Linked DNA regions of Homo sapiens: region 2 is linked to region 1. The links come from fine-mapping of genetic effects on gene expression. Tissue or cell type: gastroesophageal junction. Region 1 holds a variant in brackets; the other region holds the start of a gene. All regions are shown on one strand. Distances are from middle to middle.

Evidence for each region. PIP is the estimated chance that this variant, and not a neighbour inherited with it, causes the effect.
Region 2: it holds the start of EIF2D, and the variant in region 1 is fine-mapped to the expression of EIF2D in gastroesophageal junction (GTEx, PIP 0.99).

What each region holds. Positions count from the first base shown.
Region 1 is chr1:206,738,118-206,745,998 of GRCh38, forward strand. No RefSeq gene overlaps it. Among named protein-coding and RNA genes, the nearest start is that of IL19, 29 kb to the right of the region's middle. RefSeq lists silencers at 1,354-1,403, 1,434-1,543 and enhancers at 3,310-3,359, 3,450-3,559, 7,001-7,100. The variant T/A (reference allele first, on the strand shown) is at 3,187.
Region 2 is chr1:206,608,307-206,614,732 of GRCh38, forward strand. It overlaps EIF2D (eukaryotic translation initiation factor 2D), which reads right to left and starts at 4,159. Exons shown (of 15, transcript NM_006893.3): 1 at 3,981-4,159; 2 at 2,878-3,068; 3 at 1,070-1,153; 4 at 1-20. The coding sequence starts at 4,036. RefSeq lists enhancers at 1,242-1,341, 1,382-1,441, 3,852-3,921 and a silencer at 4,212-4,421.

The sequences.
Region 1 (7,881 bases):
TAGGCTGCTCTTTAAAAAGAAGACCTTCAGCCACTATCCAAGAGTAAAAATGTCACATTTTCAACATTCAGCTCATCTTGAGCACCTCCTCTGTGTCATGCCCAGTGCTTAGGACTTCGGAGACACACAGATGAGTCCAGAAGTGGGTCTAGCCTTTGTGGAGCTCAGCATAGAGAAGTGGCGGGCATCGCTGTAACAGAAGAACTGATGCTCTCCAGAACAGGAGCAGAGGTGGTTGGAGTGCATAAGGTGGAGCTATTCTGTTAGAGACCCAGGAGAGCTTCCTAGCAGCCCTTCAAGCTGGCACCTGACTGACAGTTTTGATGGCAGAAAATGGAATAGCATGATGGAGATTTCCCCATTGCATTTCTGCTCTCACTTCTCTCTGCAAGAGCTAGATCCTTCCTTCTCCAACAGGTTCACCCCTCCTGTCTTGTGGTCTGAACTGCTGTCTGTCTGCTCATCTCGTTAGCTTGACCTTTGACCCCTCATGGGTTCTGCTCATGGAAATCTGATTTACTCCTCTCTGTGGGGTGCCCTTGGTGTTTTCTGTCCATTTTCCCTTTCCAGCCCCTCCAACTTGGATTTGCCTCATAAATGATGTTTGCTCCCTGAAAAACAAAATTTGGGGATGTGGGCTGATGGGGCTTTTGCCACGTTTCACTCAATTCATTAATTTTTTAAAAAGTGTTACAGTGGTACACCTTAAACTTAGATCTTTTGTAGTTAGGCACTTTCTGAATCATCATGGAAAATGATGACATTACATGAAATTGAGAGCCCTCCTGGAAGAGCAGGATGAGCAATTGTTAGGGGCTTCCTTGCCCCTCTTCCCTCTGCCACTAAAAGGCCTTTCTCATCCCTTTGTCCTCATGGTTCTTACTCCACTCAGTTTAAAAGTGGAGCCCTTGGGAGCCTCCCTGGCACTCACACACAAAAATGTCAATATACTTGGCGTCCACCCTTTCCATTTTTAACACACCACCATCTGGAACCCAGAATTACCTTGGAATTTACTTGTCTCCTCTAGAGGGAGTCATAATTGCTTGGAAGGTAAGTTACTGCCCAGAGCCTCTGGCCAGGAAGTCTTTTGGCTGTCAAGCCTGCAGGATTTCAGGTGGGGCTGCCAAGGTGGTGGAACCTGTGTTTGATAAGTCATTTTTAGGGACCAGGGCTGCCATGCAAATGCATTTGTTTGCATAACTTTCTTGCTCTCAGGGACAGTAAAGTTTCCTACTGCCATCCCACACCCCTGCCAGGATTTGCAAGTGAAATACCAGGACTGACTTTCCACTTTCCCCCTTCATGAGTCCTCCCTTCCTAAGTCCTCCCCCACCCCTTGGTTTTGGTTTTGTCTCTGAGGTCCTGTGTGACCAAATACTAGTCTCAACCTCTCTGATCCTAGGGTAGTAGTGTTTCCAGGACCCTGATATGCAAAGTATCTGTACAAGTTATGCAAATGAGCATCCTGTCTGGGTGGCTCTGGTCCTAGCCCCGGGCAGTTACTAGCTCTGACTACTGCTGTCCGAGTGTGTGAAACGTGATCTTGCTCCTTCCTCTGTCCAGGCAGCTGTGGGTCTCTTGTTCCTCAAACAGCTACTGCCTCTTGGGGTAATAAGGCCTCAAGTTTCAGAATGAGCTGAGTTCTCCTAGCCCTTACCTTCTGATCTGGAGACATGTGGTTCTGAATTCACCAGTCAAAGGTTTACTTTTGAAAGAAACCACGATCTCATCTAAGTCTAAGACAGAGACCTTGGTTAGCTGGAGTCTGTGGTGCAGAGAGACCTGGTATTTGTAGTAAGACCTAGAGGGGCCTTTGGTTTTCTGGCACTCAGCTGTCTCCTTTTCTGGTCACAAACCTATTCTAAGGAAATGGTCCTCATAGTGAGACTCTAGCCCTACCCACCCACAGGAGGGTCGAGGGCAGGAGGGGAAGGATGACAGCCAGGCATTCTTTGAGCCAGTGTGCAAGGAAGAGAAAGGGTAGACGAGAAATTCAGTCTGATCGGCTTATTTCAGGCTCTGAAAATGACAGCTGACTCAGGGTAGGTGCTTAGTATCTGTTGGATGGATGAAAGCATCTAAAGGAAAATTAACACAAGTAATTTTAGTAACTCAAACAAGACATTATATGTACATATATAGACATACAGAGTGAGGCGTGAACCTTTCTCTTTATAACGTCTCCACCTCAGTGATGCCAATTCCCTCTCCAGAAAAAACTTCATTGAACAGCTTTATTTTTTTTGAAATTTTTATCCAAAAAGTTTCTGAAAATTTATCTAGATACAAATATACTTATAAGCACAACTGAGAAGTTTCTTTGGCAGTTATAACAAGTACAAATGGAATCATTAGGCATATTGTTCTGCAACCTGCTTTTAAAAAATTGTGATAAAATACACTTAACTGAAAATTTACCATCTTAAACATTTTTAACTGTAAACTTCACTAGTATGTTCACATTGTTGTGCAACTGACAGACTTTTTCATACCCATGAAACAACATACAGCTTGCTTTTTTCACTTAGCATATCTTGTGAATTTCCATGATCAAACTCATAGAACTATCATTCTTTTTCTAAATAGTTGCAGAGTATTTTATAGTATGATGTACCACAATTTATCTGCTGTGGATGGATATTTCTCACCTCCTTTCTTTTTTATTTGTCTTTTAACCTCATTTGCACTGAAGGACTACCCTCCCCCCCTTTTTCTACTATTTATATAGATCTCACAAATATCTTGTACAGTATCTTCGAGTGTGTGTGTAAGGATTTCTGTAGTATAGATCCCTAGTAGTGGAATGGCAAGATCTAAGGGTATACACATTTTAGTTTTTGATAGGGACTGCCAAAAAGACAGTATCGATTTATGAATGAATGCACTTTGCATATTGCTTTCCAAGTGAGAGCTTTACGAAAGGGTTTGCTGTCAGCAGCAAATCTGGGGGTAGAGTCAGTCAGCCGAGAGTAAAAGGGCATTTATAGCACTTCCCAAAACTGATAGATGTAGACCCTTGGCCACATTGTGGGCGAGTGGAAAAGTCAGCTGTAGAGGGGTTTAGGGGATTCCTTCAACATCTCCCCATATCAGTGGCCCTGCTCACTCAATTATGGTTATTTGCATACATTTTGGGCATGTAGGCAGAATGGCTCAAAGACAAAAATCTGAGGTTCAGCCTTG[T/A]TTGGCCTCCTGGTGTTTGATCTTGACCGGGCTACCTGCTTCTCTGACTGGCATGCAAATGCCTGTGGGGGATGACAAGTGTGCACATAACATAAGTGACATAAGGCTGACTCTGGTGGGTGCTGTAAGAGAGGCCCAGAGTGCTGTGGGAAGTTACAGAGGAGGCACGCCTCTGGTTAGGAATAGCAGGGAGGAGGAGGCGGCTTTGACTCCGGGTTGTAGGTGTTGTGGGGCACACAGGACACATGCAGGACCCACTATACAGGAGCTCACTAGACAGGAGCTCAGCCACATTGCCTCCCAATGTGACACTGATTGTGTGCCCAGCCCTCTGCTGGGTACCGAATCTGAGGCATCAGTCTTGGGGATGGCTTGGGATGTGGTGGTCAGTAGCTCAGTTGCATATGGCACAAAGATAAATCTTTGGAGTTACTCTAAGCTGGGTCCCAACTATGAGCAGATGACTTGTCCTCTCTGAGCCTCAGCTTGTCAACCGGTAAAATGGGAATTATTATTGAGGCACCCATGAACATGTGCCCCAGAGACCTCCTATTATGGGGAGCTTATTTGTCCAAGGGCCCCAGCTATGGCACTCTGAAATTCATTGTCTCATTTGTGTGGAGGCCACACTTCCTTTCTCGTGCTCCCAGTCAATGACAGTACAACAGGGATGTGAAGACGCACCCGTTCCTGGGAGAACCAGGACTCGAAGGATGGCCAGCTTTGCCCCTGGCAACTTCATAGACACTTGTGCCTGGGGCCCTTGTGCACATCCTCCTCTCCCTCTTTCCTTAGTGGGGTCACACACCGGTGGTTCCCCAGCCTCGCTTCACACTCCCTATTTTCTCTCATAAAGAAATTTCCCCTAACTGAACCCTTGTATGTGTAATCCTGTTTTGGCATCTGCTTCTTGGAAAATCTAGACTACAATATTATCACCAACCTTAGAAGGTGGTGAGGACTAAATGAAAAATCAGGTAAAAAAATCATATGAAAGACTTAGCATAGTTATATAAACGATTATGGAAAAGCCTCAGCCTGGCACATAGTTAGCACTCATTATTATCATATATTCTCATGCATTATACAGTGGGTACTGTAGCCATCATTGTACCAGTGTGAGCAGGTTAATTTAACTTAGGAGACTGCATTTAGAAGTCAAGAAACCTGCTTTCCTGCCCCTTCCCTGCTCTATCTCCCGAGTTCTCTATCCCCTCACATGTGCCCTTTATATAAGAGTGGCAGTTGTTACTCTTAACTCCCTAGGCTGGCCCCGGACTCCTCTTTTTGGGATAAAGGTGATTAACGCCGTGTGGCTTTTGCTGAGAAGGGAGGCTGCTACAGGGGTCTGCTGCAGGGACGTTCAGACTCAGTGGATTTGTAGCTCTTTAGCCCCGCAGAGAGGAGCCCCTGCCCTGCTGAGCTGTAGGCTTGCTGGGAGGTAGCAGGAGTAGGTGGGTGGGTCACTGAGGGGTGCTGGCAGCCGGGTAGTGTTGGCGGTGGGGGCTGAGGGAGGATGATGGGAAGACAGTGAGCCTCCGAGTGAAACAGACCATGAGAGGCGAGGTGAGTCACAGGTTTCTCTCAAAACCCCCATGCCCATGGTCTCTAGAATGTGCCGAAAGTGGAGCCCGCCATCCCCAGCCTAGGCCCCAGTTCTAAGAATGCCTCCCCTTCTCTCCCTCCCACAGTCGCCCAAATTAATCAGGTCCTCGGCTTTGGGGGGTATCGTTCTCTTTTAAGAATGCAGCAGAGAAAACCGCTGGGTTGTATCCCAGCAAAGGAGGCCACAGAGATTAGGGCTGATTGGGAGGAAATGTGAGAAGAGCGGTGTCTAGTTTAGGTTTTAGAACCTGGCTCTTCCTGCTCACACCACCAAAGAAAATTTGGCTTGAGAGATTCAAAAGAGGTTGTGTGGTGTGTAGGCTGCAACCCTAGATTCCTACAGATCTGGATTCATGGTCTTGCTCTAGCACCCAGCAGCTCAGAGCCCTCAGTGTTTGTATGCGTCAATTCCCCAATTAGTAAAAACAGTGATTTAAGAGCATCTTTGTTATAGCGCTGTTGTGAGAATGAGATAGCGAATCAGTATTAACCTTTAGCCCAGTTCCTAAATTAAAGCCCTATGAAGAGCCTCTCAGCTCAGTTCAGAGACTGCCAGTTCCCCCTTGTGAGTCTTTCTTTTCTTTTGGATTTTTGATCTCCAACGACTCCATAAGGAAGTGAAATAATTATCCCCATTTTATAGATTTGTAAACTGAGGCTCAGCTTGATTAAGTACCTAGGAAACAATCCTTTGTAGTACAGGACCCTGAGGTTCAACAGTGGTTTATCGCCTCCTTGGGACACCACCCAAAGGCAAAAGGGAAGCAGCGAAAGCATTTGAAGCTCAGAGAGGCTCAAGGCCAAGCCACAGCTTAGGGACCTGCAAAGTTCGCGGAGCTGCAGAGCTGGACGGGTGGGGCAGAAGCCACTCTTTCCATCCTCCAGGTCCTTGCGGTGGAACATTCCTCAGTTACCAGCACAACTCATTTTGAGTTTTGTTCACATGTCACTTTTCTCTTTCTTTTCTTTCTTTCTTTCTTTCTTTCTTTCTTTCTTTCTTTCTTTCTTTCTTTCTTTCTTTCTTTCTTTCTTTCTCTTTCTTTCCTTCCTTCCTTCCTTCCTTCCTTCCTTCCTTCCTTCCTTCCTTCCTTCTTTCTTTCTTTCTTTCTTTCTTTCTTTCTTTCTTTCTTTCTTTCTTTCTCTTTCCTCCTTCCTTCCTTCCTTCCTTCCTTCCTTCCTTCCTTCCTTCCTTCCTTCCTTCCTTTCTTTCTTTCCTTTTCTTTCTTCTTTTTTTTTTTTTTTTTAGAGGGAGTCTCGCTCTGTCTCCCAGGCTGGAGTGCAGTGGTGCGACCTTGGCTCACTGCAATCTCCGCCTCCTGGGTTCAAGTGACTCTTATGCCTCAGCCTCCCATGTAGCTGGGATTACAGGCACCCGCCACCAGGCCCGGCTACTATTTGTATTTTTTAGTCGAGACGGAGTTTCACCATGTTGGCCAGGCTGATCTCGAACTCCTGACCTCAAGTTACCCACCCGCTTTAGCCTCCCAAAGTGCTGGAATTACAGATGTGAGCCACTGCCCCCTGGCCACGTGTCACTTTTTCAATGACACCTACCCTTATTGTCTGATTTAGAACTGCAATTTTTCCTCCCACCTTTGACTCCTCACTCTGGGCATTCTCTGTAACCCTTCATGGCTCTATTTTAAAAAATCGTTTTTATTGAATTACTGTGTACATACACACAGTTATCCTACTTAATTTTCCCCCATAGATCTGATCACCTTCTAAAAATCTGTATAACTTGTTTATAATGGCTAGCATGTAACCTCCACAAGGGCAGGGATTTGTGTCTGTTTTATCCATGGACACATCCCAGTGCCTGGCATATAGCAGCTCTCAGCTACTTATTGAAGGTTGGTGGGAAATTGCTGGCATCCAGTACTCTTTGCAGAGAATGAAGATGAACCTCCCTGACTTGACAGTTTCGTGGAGAACAACACAAGGCGCTGTATGAGTCAGTGCTAAGGGCTGTGGTAACGACAGCAGCACGTGCTGGGTGGGACCAGGAGCATGTCCCCAGAAGTCTGTGAGATCCAGGGAAGCCCTCCTAGAGGAGGTTAGTTGGCACTTCCATTTCTTTAGCTCCCCCATCAGCTGAGACAGCTCCTCCTGCCCTAATAGAGGGAAGGATTCACTCTGTCAAACCCAGATACCTCCTGCTCTTTCTGCCCATTTCCTCTTGTTCTGCCCTCAGTGGGTCCTGTGGCGGTAACCGCACTAACCATTCCAGCCCATCTCATTCCTTACCCCACAGTCCCAGCAGGCTAAGTATGGGCTGCTGCAGACAAATTGCCCACAGGCTTGTGTAGCTTGGAAGGGGCAAGCAGCAGACAGCTTGCCCTTGGAGTAGGGTTGAACCCATGGATGCACATCCTGGCACTTGTCATGAAGCCCAACACATAGATGATGCTCAGTAAATATAGGATGAGTGGATGGATAAAGCTGAGAGTTAAAAGATGCCTGGAGGCCAGGTGCAATGGCTCATTTCTGTAATCTCAGTGCTTTAGGAAGCAGAGCAGGAGGATTGCTTGAGACCAGGAGTTCAAGGCTGCAGTAAGCTATGATAACCACCACTGCACTCCAGCCTGGGTGGCAGTGCCCTAAAAAAAAAAGAAGAAAAGAAAAATAAGATGCTCTGAGAAGACATTTAAATGACTCAGTCTCTGTCTAGACACAACAGTGGCATCATTTAAACAAATTTCTGTTTTTTTTTTTTTTTTACTTTACTATGTGTTTGTATTTAGCATTTTATTTTATGCCACTTTCCCCAAATGGAAGCTTGCGTGATTGTATTCTGTGTGGCACAAAATCAAGGAAATAGGAAAATAACAATGAGAATGTAGGGAGAGGAGGATACATACCAAAAGCCCTCACTCAGTGGAGCCAAGTGGAGCTGAAACCCGGATAGTAAAACCTGCTGTTGTCTAGATGTTCAGACCCCTGCTCCTCCAATGAGCCATTCTGAGGACAACCCTGGGCCACAACCCTATTGTGGGGGTAGGAGTATATTCCTTGGTCCTCAAGCTTATAGGAGAAGTGGAGTGTCACAATTCTTACGGGGTCCCAATTCCTCTCTGTATTTATATTAGT
Region 2 (6,426 bases), 130 kb before region 1:
CAGTCCAGGCAGCATCAAATCTGCAATGAACAAAAAAAATCACAACCTGCATTCAGCCTCCATCTCACTCTGCGTTTTACTTCATCATTTCCTCACTCGCTCAACAAAAAAATAGTTACTAGGTATCAACTATGTTTTTCATAATAAAAATGAAAAATGGCAACTTCCAACAAAAAAATAGTTATTAGTTATCAACTATGTTATTCATAATAAAAATGAAAAATGGCAACTTCAGTATCAGACCTTCTCCCCTTAGGGGGCTAAAGGTCAAACAGAGTTTGAGTGTCCTGGCCGGGCGCAGTGCCTTATGCCTGTGGCTTACGCTTTTTATGACCCCTTCACCCATCCAATAGCAGGACATTTATTTTTATTCAAATGGTGGTTTCTAAGCCAGAAGTGGGAACCTTGACTTCCACTCCAGACTCAGCTCCTAACATTCTTCTGGCATAAAAGAGCTACTCTTAGCCAGGTGCGGTGGCTCACGCCTGTAATCCCAGCACTCTGGGAGGCCAAGGCGGGCAGTTGACTTGAGGTCAGAAGTTCGAGACCAGCCTGGCCAACATGATGAAACCCTGTCTCTACTAAAAATACAAAAATTAGCCAGGCGTGGTGATGCACACCTGTAATCCCAGTTACTCGGGAGGCTGAGGCAGGAGAATCACTTGAACCTGGGAGGCAGAGGTTGTAGTGAGCCGAGATCATGCCACTGCACTCCAGCCTGAGCAACAGAGTGAGACTCCATCTCAAAAAAAAAAAAATAAAAAAAGTTTGAGTAGCCTATAACATGATCTGTCTTGTCCTAGTTTCCTAAATTCAGCTTATTGATTTACAGTATAGCACATGGTGGTTCATAAAATACTTTCACAACACTTATTTAAGCCTTACAACAGGGCCAGAGGGGCCCAGAGATCTTGTGTGGAACCAGCCAAGTGAGAAACATAAAACACATAGGGGAAAAAATTCCATTTTTCAACCACAAAAACACAGGAAATGGGTAAGTTTATTACATCAGTTGGCTTTTGCTAAGTAGGTTTCAGCCAATAGCCAGAATATAGGAGAATCCTCTTACCTGCTCCCCCTACCAGTTTCTCGAGCACCAGAGGCCATGTTGTAAAGGTTGGCAGAAGATCAGGATAGGACCACAGCGTGTACACTGTACAAAAAGAGATCCAGAAAACACTACTACCAAAAAGCCAATCTTCTAGAGAAATGGAAAAACCTAACACTATGGTCACTTTAATTAGAATACAGGAAAGAAACTCAACTCAAAGCTAAAGAGAAGGTTGTAAGGGGATGCCCAGAGAGGTTTCATTTTTGAGGAAGGAAAAAACCTAAGAAACTGAGTGTCACTTGAGATTTGGAGGCATCCGGATTGCAGCAGCAGAAAATGGTCACAGTGGACAAAAAAGTGAGGGCAGAGAACCAATGAAGCTTTTATTTACGGCTTCAGAAGCAAGTAGCCTAAGAACAGGAAGCCAGCTGTATAAAATTTGGAAACTTTCCCATGTTTATCATTTTTATCCCCTCTGTTTCCATAGTGATTAGCAGCAAAAACCCCTAGGTCAAAAAGCATTGTGGTTGTCTTCAGGTACAGCAAGGAAGTGAGATCAGGGGCAGGAGTGGCCTAAGGATATTGCATTGCACTATTGCAGACAACCCTGGAGGATGAAAAGCCCCAAGTTACAAAGTAGGTGTCAGCAGCTATGGAAAAGAGAAAAGGAGACTGAGTCCCTGAGATTTGTGACAGAGAAGGCAAAGAATCCTAGAGAGCCACTCATAGCCTAAAAAATCCCTGTGAGACCTATGGTTAAAGTACACCATGAAAACAGCTGGATATGTAGCTTATCAATCCAGCTTTATTCCTATCACAGTATATCTTTTCAGTATTTTAGGAAAATCCTGCTACAGATAGTTTTAAGAAACATTTTTTAGGCTGGGCACCCTGCTCATGCCTGTAATCCCAACACTTCGGGAGACTGAGGCAGGAAAATCACTTGAGCTCAAGAGTTCAAGACCAGCCCGAGCAACATAGTGAGACCTTGTCTCTACCAAAAATTTTAAACGTAGCCAGACATGGTGGCATATGCCTGTAGTCCCAGCTACACAGGAGGCTGAGGTGGGAGGATCCCTTAAGCACAGGAGGTTGAGGTTACAGTTAGCTACGATCACACCACTGCACTTCAGCCTGGGTGACAGAGTAAGACCTTGTCTCTAAAAAATATATATATTTTTGGCCAGGCGCGGTGGCTCACGTCTGTAATTCCAGCACTTTGGGAGGCCGAGGCGGGCGGATCATGAGGTCAGGAGATCAAGATCATCCTGGCTAACATGGTGAAATCCCGTCTCTACTAAAAAATGCAAAAAATTAGCAAGGTGTGGTGGCGGGTGCCTGTAGTTCCTGCTACTCGGGAGGCTGAGGCAAGAGAATGGTGTGAACCCAGGAGGCGGAGCTTGCAGTGAGCTGAGATTGCGCCACTGCACTCCAGCCTGGGCAACAGAGCAAGACTCTGTCTCATGAAGACATGCCCTGAAATTCCATCCTTTTCAAGACCTCTGCTCTATTCCTAGTCAACCCACTGTAAACTTCTCAGCCACTGTTCCTTCATCTCAGAACTTCCCTTTGCAACCACCCTTACTTACTATGTCAGCCCTTTTTTTAATCCCTCCTATAGTGGTTTTGCATAAGAGAAAACCTTTTGCATCCTAGAATTGAAAGACCCAATTCTAGGAACACCAGGTCCATAAAGATCCTTGGGGATGGTATTGGGAGATTTCGTGCTTGCTTATTTTATGGGAGACAATGGAAGAAACAGAGAGAAGCAGATGTTAGGCAAGAACTACCTAATGGTAATGGCCATCTTCGTCCTGTTGTCATACCTGTTGGATACAGATTTTTCTCCAGTTCAAAGAGGATGGGGTTACCACCACTCACGTACACAGTCACTGCATCCCCTTTGTGAGCATACAACTTCACAATGTTGAGCTCCTCCTTTCCAGGTACTAACTCAGAGACTTGATCAGTTCCAAGGGTGGGGAAAGCAGTTGTCACATCAGCTCGAAGCTTTCTCCTGTGGAAAGCACACCAGCACTGTGAATGCTGCCTGGACAGACTTTTAATAAATATCAAGAACGAACTCAAAAGTGCTCACTATAAAATCACAAGGGCCAAAGAAAGATTGCCTGGTTTATGATGTCCTAGTCTCACACACACTCTTCTGAAACATCCTAAACTCTTTTTCATCCATTGTCATCTATTTTCACTCATTCCTGGGGTATGCCTTCCCATTTTATGGGTGGGAAAACAGGCCCAGTGAACAATCCAAGTTAGCCTGACACAGGAAACAGCCCTGCCTTCCTGACTTCATGCCTAGCCCTTGGGCCCACTCCTTTCTCATACATGCTTCGCAAATATGCCAGTTTATGATTAAATAACTATGCCATGAGACCTATAGACAACTATAAAGCACTGGTTACAAAATTCCAAACACAATCTCCATTTGTGACCCTGTCTGAACAGATACAGTTCTTCTTACCACATGTGCCTTATTCCCTCCCACCTCAGTTTCCAGCTGTCTCTCCTGCCAGAATTAATCACTAGTCATTTTTTTCTCTTATACTTTTAATTCTTGGTATCCCATCCGATCTCTCCCAAGGGGCATTAAGCTCTTTGGAGGGCAAGAATTCTGTATTCCTTCACTTCTGCATTCTCCACAACACCTTAAATAGTCTGCAGTCAGTAAACTCTGACTTAACTACGTTTTCTTTTAAACTCACTAGACTATCCAAAAGAGAGCCAGGTCCCCCTCCATCCTCACCTCAAAATGTGTCTAACCCACCCTTGCCTCCTGGGGTCCCTTCCCTGGCATACCCCTCGGCCTCCACCCGAGGATGTCGGCCAAGAATAGCGAGGGCTATGGGCCAGCGGGGCCCAAGAGGTGTCTGGTTGTTCCGTGGCAGAGCAGGCCCCTTTCCTCCCTCACCTGTCCGACCCCTTGATGGCCGTGTTGGACTTGACCCGAAAGGCCTTGGCAAACATGTCTGCTGGGGTGGCCTGGGGAAGAGAGCACAGAAGCCAGGGAATGTCAAGAAAGCGAGGGCGCAGCAGCTGCCAGGCCCTCAGCCGTGGGGGCAGCCATGCTGGGGCCCGGCCGCGAAAAGGGCCCGGCTGGAAACCAGGGCCGCGCAGCTTCGTGGCCGTTGCCGCTGGGGAGGCCGCGGCCGCCCCCAGTGGCGGTACCTGGAACTAAAGCAGGGCAGGGAGGGGCAGGGCCCAGGGAACGCCCCTCCCCCCCACCTTCCCATCCCCTCGCGGGCCTGGCTCTGCGCCTGCGCGAGCGGCTCGGGTTCCCCGTCCGTAGCGACTCGGCCACGCCAATAGCTGTTCTGTTTATTTCCTTCCACCCCATCAACCTTAGGAACTGCTTTGAGTAGAAGCTCTCTGCAAGCTCCCATTCCATTCGGTTCGGTTCAATTCCGCAAAAATAATTGAACTGATAAACAGTTCAGGCTTCGGCCGGGCGCGGTGGCCCAAGCCTGTTATCCCAGACTTTGGGAGGCCGAGGCGGGCGGACCGCTTAAGCCCAGAAGTTCGAGACCAGCCTGGGCAACATGGCGAAACCCCATCTCCATAAAAAATACAAAATAAAAAAAAAAAAAAAAAAAAAAAAAAAGAAAGAAAGAAAGAAAGAAAAAGAATTGGGAGGCCGAGGTGGGCGGATCACCTGAGGTCGGGAGTTCGAGACCAGCCTGATCAACATGGAGAAACCCTGTCTGTACTAAAAATACAAAATTAGCCGGGCATGGTGGAGCATGCCTGTAATCCCAGCTACTCGGGAGGCTGAGGCAGGAGAATTGCTTGAACCCGGGAGGCAGAGGTTGTGGTGAGCCGAGATTGCACAATTGCACTCCAGCCTGGGCAACAAGAGTGAAAGTCCGTCTCAAAAAAAAAAAAAAAAGAAAAGAAAAAAGAAAAATTCAGCCGGGTGTGGTGGCGCATGCCTGGGGAGGCTAAGGCGGTAGGATCGCTTGAGCCCAGGAGGCAGAGGTTGCCGTGAGCCGAGATTGTGCCACTGCACCCCACCTTGGACAACAGAGTAAGACTCCGTATCAAAAAAATCAAACAAACAAACAAAAAAACCTCGAGGGCTTTTTGAATATTTTTCTTTATTTTATTTTATTTTGTTTACTTGGAGACAGGGTCTCGCTGTGTCACCCAGGCTGGAGTGCAGTGGCGCAATCTCAGCTCAATGCAGCCTCCACCTCCCGGGCTCAAGCGATCCATCCGCTTCAGCCTCCCGAGTAGCTGGGACTACAGGCGGGCACCACCACACCAGGCTAATTTTTGTATTTTTTGTAGAGACAGGATCTCACCTTGTTGCCCAGGCTGGTCTCAAACTCCTGAGGTCAAGAGATCTGTCCGCCTCGGCCTCCCAAAGTGGTGGGATTACAGGACAGGTGTGAACCACCAAGTCGGGCCTAAATGTTTTTCTTAAAGGCATTCTATGATTAAGGTCTATTCATTGTACTATAAGCTAGAAGCCTCAGCTAGAATTTTCTGTAAGATTTTTCTCATCCCGGATTTTTAGTTTACTTGGGTGGTAATAACAGTAATAGAGAATTCACTGTTGTCCCAGATTTGTCCCAAAGTCACACAGGCAGGGAAGAGAAATTAGGTTTTCCTCAAAGGGACAGCTGTGTTCCCTGGAGACAAGGATTTAAACACCCGGAATCCTGGCTCTTCGTAAATTAAGTCTTGCATATTAAAATTACATTAAGCAATTTAAGTAATAAAAGTAAATTATGTTTTGCATATTAAAACTTCCAAGTGTCCATTCACCAATAAAAAATCCCAATTGATTCAGTGACGCAGTTGCACAAAGGAGAATTCCACACTGGCTTTCTAAACATTAGGCCTTCTACAATGTTTGCCCACCACCTATAGTGGCCTAGGGACCAGCCCCAACTCCTCCTAAACCTGTGACCCACTAGGCCTTTATTCTGAAGTATCCCAGCCACCAGGCCAATGTCAAAGGAGCCCAGAGGAGGACAGTGCCTACAACAGACCCCTGTACCCACCCTTCACCTCCCACTTAGCCACTCTTCGGATGTGCAATACATTTGGGGTCTTTTGCAGCACAGCTGCTGAGGAAGCCTCTTTCTTAGGGAACAGAGGAAAGCTATTCAGAGAATACTAAACATTTTAAGCTAGGGGAACTTTTGTATACCAGATGTCCTTGGATAAGAAAACATCAATTGTAAACCTAAAAATTAATTAGTGGTTGACAAGTAGGAGCCAAGACCCCAGAGGATTCTGCACCATGGCATCCAGCCTCCTCTTTGGTAGAGCAAGAGCCCCCTTCCCCAGTGGGCACAATCCCACCTTCTCTGCTTGCATCACAGACCTGCCTGCTCCCTGCTGGCTGACCC